2 linked regions of the Homo sapiens genome follow. The protein of the gene in region 1 interacts with the protein of each later gene in a biochemical or structural test. Each region holds a gene or a part of one and is shown in the gene's direction. Other genes may lie near its edges. The genes, in order: FBXW8 and CUL1.

Region 1 (3,824 bases):
GTGCGTCTCAGACTCGTGCACATTAGAGAAAGTGCCGGCGGTGACGCAGTCAGGACTGGGGAGCGGGGTGGGTAGAAACATGCGTGTTTGTAGAGCCTTCCTTACCCTCTGGTGGCCAAATGGACCCTGATGACGTTGAAACCAGGAGACAGCAGATCACTTGGATATTTTTAACCTTTTGGCCACACATTTTGACACAAATGTTAAAATTTTTTTTGCGAATTTGGAGCTGAATGTTATTTATTCAGTTCATTGTAAACAAACAAACAAACAAAAAACACAACAAAACCAAAAAAACCCCAACCTTTTATTTTTTGAATTGCTATTACATCCCCATGGTTCAGAATTTAAAAGACACAATAAAGCTGATGGTGGGAAATCTCCCCATCTCATAATCCACTTCCCTCCTTGAAGGCAGCCATTGTTAGAAGATGTATGGATGTGCGAGTCAAGCGCATTGTGTACTTTCTCCACCCCCACCTTGTACACATGTCAGCAGGTGGGGTTACCTAACTCATCTTGCATCCTTGCTTTACCCGCTAAGCTTATCTGGGAGAACCATGCCATTTGTTTCGTTTTATAAAGAACGTTTTCATGCTTCCCTCTAGGACTGCATGGTATTCCAGCGTATAGATACACTGAGTTATTTAATTAGTCCCTTAGTAATGGGTGTTTCTGTTTTTCTAGTTTTTAGCTAAGACACAATTGTACTACAGTTCATGAATAACCTTGTACATAATCATTTTTTATATATGTGAGTTTATTTGTAAGTAACTTCTAGAAGTGGATATCCTGGGTCAGAGTGCATGTTCATTTGGTATTTTGATAAGAGTAGCCAAAGTTCCCTTGATACAAGTTGGACAAGATTATATCCCCACCAGCAGTAAGTGGGATCCAGAAACATGGAACATGGTTTTCCCTCCTTCACTTCCAGCCCAGGGTGTTATCAGATTTCTTGATCTTTACCGATATGAAAGGTGAAGCATCATATTTCAATGAATTTTCATTTTATATTTCTCTTTTTAGGTGTGTCTTATGTTTCTCTTATACTGAGCATCTTTTCTGTTGTGTAAGAGCTGTTTGTGTTTCATTTCCTGTGAGTGTTTCATTTGCCCATCTTTTTCTGTTGGGTTGCTGGTCTTCTCATTGATGTGTAGGTGGAATTGCATATTTTTGATCAAGTCAGGATGAATTTATGGGACTAAACAACTCTTACCTTTTAACAGGTTCAGTACCTTGAAATAGTTCCAGAAACCAGAAGGTACCCTGTGGCAGTAGCCGCTGCTGGAGATCTGATGTACCTGCTCAAAGCCGAAGACTCCGCCAGAACCCTCCTTTACGCCCACGGCCCGCCTGTCACATGTCTAGACGTCTCGGCCAACCAAGTTGCTTTTGGTGTACAGGGTCTGGGATGGGTGTACGAAGGAAGCAAGGTACACAACTAGCAAGATATATAATTAACAAAAAAGAATATAGATTTATTTTTTAGAAGGGAATTGAAAAATTAAAGCTCTTCAATATTTTTCCAGATATATCAGGCCAGTATATAAGCATGGTCAAAAAATTCAAGAACTTCAAAAGGATTGCAAATGAAAAGTAATCATTTTCTTTCTCCTCCCTTCCCCCAACTTCCCTGCACAGAAGAAACTATTAACAGTTTTTAGGTATCCATCTAGAAAAATTTAATGCATATATAGGTACATTTGTATACTAAAAACATATTGTTGTAGAGATGGGATCATAGTATACATAGTGTTCTGTACCCAACATTTTTACTCCATAATGTGCCTTGGAGAGAGGATTCCATGTCAGCTTTTACCAAGCTCTCCCTCTCTAGGATTCCAGCATATGCTTCTAGCTCATAGCCTGTTTAGCCAGGCCCCTCACTGGTAGGTGTTTAGCTTGCTTTCACTGTGTTGGCTGCTATAAGCAATGCTACAATGCATATTGCAGCTTGCAGAAGTCCTTTTATATATAGTGTATCTCTAGGATGTGTACTTGAGATAATGATGGACATTTTCAAATTGCCCTTCTAAAAAGGTGCATCAGAATTCACATTCTTACCAACAGTGCATAAAAGTGCATTCTGATGCTCTTTGAGCCAAAAGCAGGAAGACAGGTTTTTAATGGAAATTCTTTGAGTGATGACTAAATTTTATCACTCCCTAGCATGTTACTATCCTGACTATAGGCCAAATACTTAGTCTAAAAGCTGATTTATAGAACTCTCCCTACCAGTGGGACCAAGGGGGAGAGAGAGAAAGTTTTTGTTTCATTTTGGGTTTTTTCCCAATTTCCCTGCTCCTGACCCATTCTGTCAGTTGGTGGGATTCCTGCGAAGGAACGTGTCTGGGCCAGCAGACCCTGTGTGACTGTTAGTAGTTTCCTTAACCCTCTTTATGCCTCAGTTTCCTCATTTGTAAAATAGAGTTCATAATAGTGCCTGCTTCTTAGAGTTGTAGGATTAAATGAAAAGCCATATGTAAAGCTTGAGGCATGGTGCCTGGCACATGAGAGCTCCCGACCTGTTAGCTCCTGAACCTCCCGTTATTCCTCCCACCCATAGTTGGATTCCAGCCTCTGGTGGTGCCTATTTTTACATCTTACTTCCTCCATGTATTTGACCTGTAAGGTCAAATCTCATTTATGTAGGTGTGATTGGCTTTGCAAACTAGTAAATGGTCAAGAATGGAAGCATCTTGGATCCCAGTGATATATTCTTCATCCAGGAAGATAGACTAAGCGGTAGACGATATGTGTGGCATCCTATCATCTCAATGTGAAACTTTATCATCTCACTGTGAAAAGGCCTCCCCTTGTGCTGCAAACTTTATCATCTCATTTGTGCTGCAAATTTGGTGTGCAGTTTGGTTGGGGCATCTCCGTTGTGTCCTAGCTGGAAGATGTGTCATGATATTACTCCTGAGTTTTGTCTTCCCAGGAAGTGGGGAAGGAGCAGGAATTGTTTCCTAAGGCAGTTTCCTTTCTCATGCTCTAAAAAAACTTTCTTTTCCCATCCCTGGTGAGCTCATTTGTTGAGAGAGGGGAGACCATTTTGCTTTCTAATTTTTCATCTGGTATGCTTTCAAGTTTGTGTTATCTCATTTATTTTTAGAGCTCTCAGTATAGAGAGGTGATAGTTATATTCAGTACCAGTCTGGTTTAAATTTTTCATACTTTTTATAAATGTTTTCTCCTTGACTTATCTGAATGGATTTATTCCTGTAGTAATACAGTTGTAATGGATACATTTGAGAAACTACTTAAAGGGACAGTTCAGCACAAGGATCCTTCAGATACAGATGTAAGGCAGTGGGGTTTTTTTGATTCCTCTCAAAATTTCCAACTCAACTAAAAGCATTAACTGTAAGAATCAGCTGATAAACACATTAATTTTGTGAAAAATCCTTGGTTAAAAATGTATAGTCCCTGGCTGGGCACAGTGGCTCACATCTGTAATCCCAGCACTCTGGGAGGCCAAGTCAGGAGGATGGCTTGAGGCTGGGAGTTTGAGACCAGCCTGGGTAACATAGTGAGACCCTGTCTCTACCACACACACACAAAAAAAGTATAGTCCTGTAAGCTGGTGTTTTCGCTGGTGTTTTAAAATTAGGAGTGGAAATAAATTTGCTGCAAGAATGTTTCTAAATGTCTCTTTGGAAGCTGACAGTAGCATTTAGTCATCCACATATTTTGTGAGCATAGCACCAACCCTCCAAACACTCATGTGGGTGAATGGCTGCTTGCTAGTAGTGTTGGTAATAACTTTGTGTTGAGATGTTTCTCCAACAGGAATGCCACCCACTCAAAAGTAAGAGGAATAC
Region 2 (3,824 bases), on another chromosome or scaffold:
TGCATAGTATTCCATGCCACCTAGGATTTTCATAGCTAGAGAGAAGTTAATGCTTGTGTCAAAGCTTCAAAGGACAGGCTGACTCTCTTGGAGGTGAATGTAGCTGGTGACTTTGTTGAAACGAGTGATCACTTACCATTCTGAAAATCCTAAGGCCCTTAAGAATTATGCTAAGTCAAGCCAATGTGGTGACCCGTGCCTGTATTTTCAGCTTCACAGGAGGCTAAGGTGGGAGGATCACTTCAGACCAAGAGTTTGAGGCAGTAGCCTGCTATGATCATGTCTGTGAATAGCCACTGCTCTCCAGCCTGGGCAACATAGTGAGATCCTGTCTCTTTAAAAAAAAAAAAAAACAAAACAAAACTGTCTATGCCCTAGAAATGGATATTAAAACCATAATAAACCACAGTATGAATGCAAGGCCAAGGTTGTGGTCGATGAAAACTCATGCACTACAGGGTGCTGGATAGCCGCTTTGTAGCACTAAGTTGGCAACTCTTAATAAAGTTAAACCCACCACTTTGGGAGGCCAAACAGGAGGATTGCTTGAGCCCAAGAATTTTGGACCAGCCAGGGCAACATAGCAAGACCCCATCTCTACAAAAAATTGTTTAAAAGGGCCTGGCAAGGTGGCTCACATCTGTAATCCTAGCAACTTTGGGAGGTCGAGGCAGGTGGATTGCCTGAGGTCAGGAGTTCAAGACCAACCTGACCAATATGGTGAAACCCTGTCTCTACTAAAAATACAAAAATTAGCCAGGAATGGTGGCAGGCGCCCGTAATCACATCTACTCAGGAGAATCGCTTGATCCCGGGAGGCAGAGGTTGCAGTGAGCCGAGATTACATCACTGCACTACAGCCTGGGAGACAGAGTGAGACTCTGTCTCAAAAAAAAAAAAAAAAAAAACCTCTCTTGTCACTTTGTCACTTAGTATTTCTGTGCTCCAAGAAACTTGTACTCAAGGAGACCTGCTAGTTTTATTCTTTGCAGCTTTGTAAATACACAAAAAATAGGTATCTGCCAAAAGGACTATTAGCAAGGTCCACCACCAAGAGAGTTGATGAAGTATTGTAAATGTGCGTTACACAGTATATTACAGCTGCGGCTATGTCAGATACCATCAAAAACAAATGGCAGAGCAAATGTACATATTACAGTTTGTATAATTTAAAAATGTAGAACATGGCCAGACGCGGTGGCTCACGCCTGTAATCCCAGCAGTTTGGGAGGCCGAGGAGGCTGGATAGCCTGAAGTTGGGAGTTTGAGACCAGCCTGACCTACATGGAGAAACCTCATGTCTACTAAACATACAAAATTAGCCAGGCGTGGTGGCGCCTGCCTGTAACCACAGCTACTCGGGAGGCTGAGGCAGGAGAATCGCTTGAACCCAGGAGGTAGAGGTTGTGAGCTGAGATCACGCCATTGCACTCCAGTCTGGGCAACAAGAGTGAAACTCCATCTCAAAAAAAACAAAACAAAATGTAGAACATGTGAAATATATTTGATACACATTTATCCAGCAAAATATAAAAACATAGGAATGATATATACCAAATCATGGTGCTATTTGCTAGGGTAAGAGGAAGGAGTGGGATGAAAGAGGGAGAATATAGTGCTTCACTTATAACCTGTAATATTTTATTTTCTCAAAAGTTGAGGGAGGCTGTAGGTGGAATATGAGACAAGTGTGGGAATGCAGTAAGATCTATCAAAACTGGGTCATGAGTATACAGTAGTTGTTTATTGTAATCTGTGATTCTCTATACAATTGAAATAGTTAATAATTTTTCATTGTTTTAAAGTATAGTTCTTTGATTATTACCTAGATTGGTTATTTTATTAGGTTTGGGGGCATTAGTATATATTTATTTTACCTTTTAGATTTTCTGTGGTATATTTTGTTCATGTTTCCATAGAGATTCATTTTTTTAATTGCTTTAAATTACCTTAATTTATTAAAGATAGTTTAAGGTATTTCATCTTAATCTACAATTTTGAATTTATTTATTTATTTTTTGAGACAGAGTCTTGCTCTGTCGCCCAGGCTGGAGTGCAGTGGCATGATCTCAGCTCGCTGCAAGCTCCGCCTCCCGGGTTCATGCCATTCTCCTGCCTCAGCCTCCCGAGTAGCTGGGACTACAGGCGCCTGCCACCACGCCCGGCTAATTTTTTGTGTGTGTTTTTAGTAGAGATGGGGTTTCACCGTGTTAGCCAGGATGGTCTCAATCTCCTGACCTTGTGATCCACCTGTCTCGGCCTCCCAGAGTGCTGGGATTACAGGCGCGAGCCACCGCGCCCAGCCTGAATTCATTTTTTTGTGTGATCTTACTTAGAAAGGGCCGCTCCAGCCTGAGAACAGATAAGCGTTCACATATATATTCTTGGTTTTACTGTTTTAGCTTGTATATTTTAAATCTTAATCCATTTGTAATATATTTTGGAATATAACATGGAATATTTAGAAATATCTTGCCCTCATGCCATTTATTAGATAATCTATCTTTTACCCGTTGTCTTGAAGTATCTTTATATAGTAAATTCTTAATTATACCAGAATATTGTTTTGTTCTGTTTTGTTGATCTTTCTGAGTATAAGTATCTTTCCGTTCATTTTATTCAATTAATAATACATGCAGATAAGCTCATCATATTTAAAGGATACAACAGAACACGGTGGTTTTCTGCCCTGCCTGGCCCCATCTTCTCATTCTCTGCGCTCCCCCTGCAGATGCAGCTGTTTTGCAATCAGCTGTCTGTGCTGTGGTTTATACATCTCTCTCTTTCTCAGGAGTGTGTGGACACTGCTGCCGTTCACTGATAAGTTTTAGATGGCTATGACTATTGTAATATAAGGACTTGGCTCTCTGAGTCATTTTAAAATAAAGTTTGTGTTATTTCAATATTTAGAATCTGTGCCTCTGAAAAAGTTACAGCTGAGCATCATAATAGACAGTGCTTATTGTTAGCTTTTTGTTTTTCCTGGAGTCAGTAATTGCATTTTTCTTTTGGGACAGTTTTCCACAAGGTCAGTCACATCAGATAATCTAAAAGGTCCAGATTTTTTTATAGGCAACCTCCCTCCTGGAATGTTCCCTTCTCCACCTTGGCGGTGTTGCTCTCAAGGCCTACCAACAACCTTGTGAATGGGGCTTGTTGACTTTTAGCTTTATGGATAGTGTGAATGGGATCTTTGTTCCATTCTAGTTTTTAACAGGTTTTGGTTGATATATTGGGAATGCATTGGTAATGAAATATAAGAAAATATGTTTATGTTAATGACCGTTAACGTCTGTGATATATGTTGGTTTCCTTAACTTTTCTCCAAGTCATGTTTATAACTACTGTACTAGTGTTCACCAGTCAAACCAAGCACGAGGAGCTGGAGTTCCTCCTTCTAAGTCGAAAAAGGGGCAGACACCTGGAGGAGCTCAGTTTGTTGGCCTGGAATTATATAAACGACTTAAGGAATTTTTGAAGAATTACTTGACAAATCTTCTTAAGGTAAGATGTTTTATATATATACTGAGTATTCATAACAGGATATAAAAAAAGTGAAATAATGGTTCTAACTTGTTAAATCTTTCACTGTCATCTGTTACTGTTTTAGACACTAACGTAGGTGACAGTGTTTTGCTATTGCATAGTCTTTTACCTACTGTGAATATGAAATCACCATAAACTATATTCTAGGGTTTTGTTTTTTCGAGATGGAGATCTCACTATGTTGCCCAGGCTGGATTTTTGATCTCCTGGGCTCAAGTGATCCTTCCACTTCGGCCTCCTGAGTAGCTGAGACTCTGCAAATGCTCACCACCGTGCCC

The links.
Region 2: the proteins of FBXW8 (region 1) and CUL1 form a complex in vitro, tested with the Homo sapiens proteins (one study listed by BioGRID).

What each region holds. Positions count from the first base shown.
Region 1 is NC_000012.12:116,987,437-116,991,260, forward strand, and holds part of FBXW8 (F-box/WD repeat-containing protein 8), read left to right. Parts: intron 1-1,226; coding exon 1,227-1,433; intron 1,434-3,824. UniProt on the Homo sapiens protein: Substrate-recognition component of the Cul7-RING(FBXW8) ubiquitin ligase complex, which mediates the ubiquitination and subsequent proteasomal degradation of target proteins.
Region 2 is NC_000007.14:148,750,647-148,754,470, forward strand, and holds part of CUL1 (cullin-1), read left to right. Parts: intron 1-3,329; coding exon 3,330-3,504; intron 3,505-3,824. UniProt on the Homo sapiens protein: Core component of multiple cullin-RING-based SCF (SKP1-CUL1-F-box protein) E3 ubiquitin-protein ligase complexes, which mediate the ubiquitination of proteins involved in cell cycle progression, signal transduction and transcription.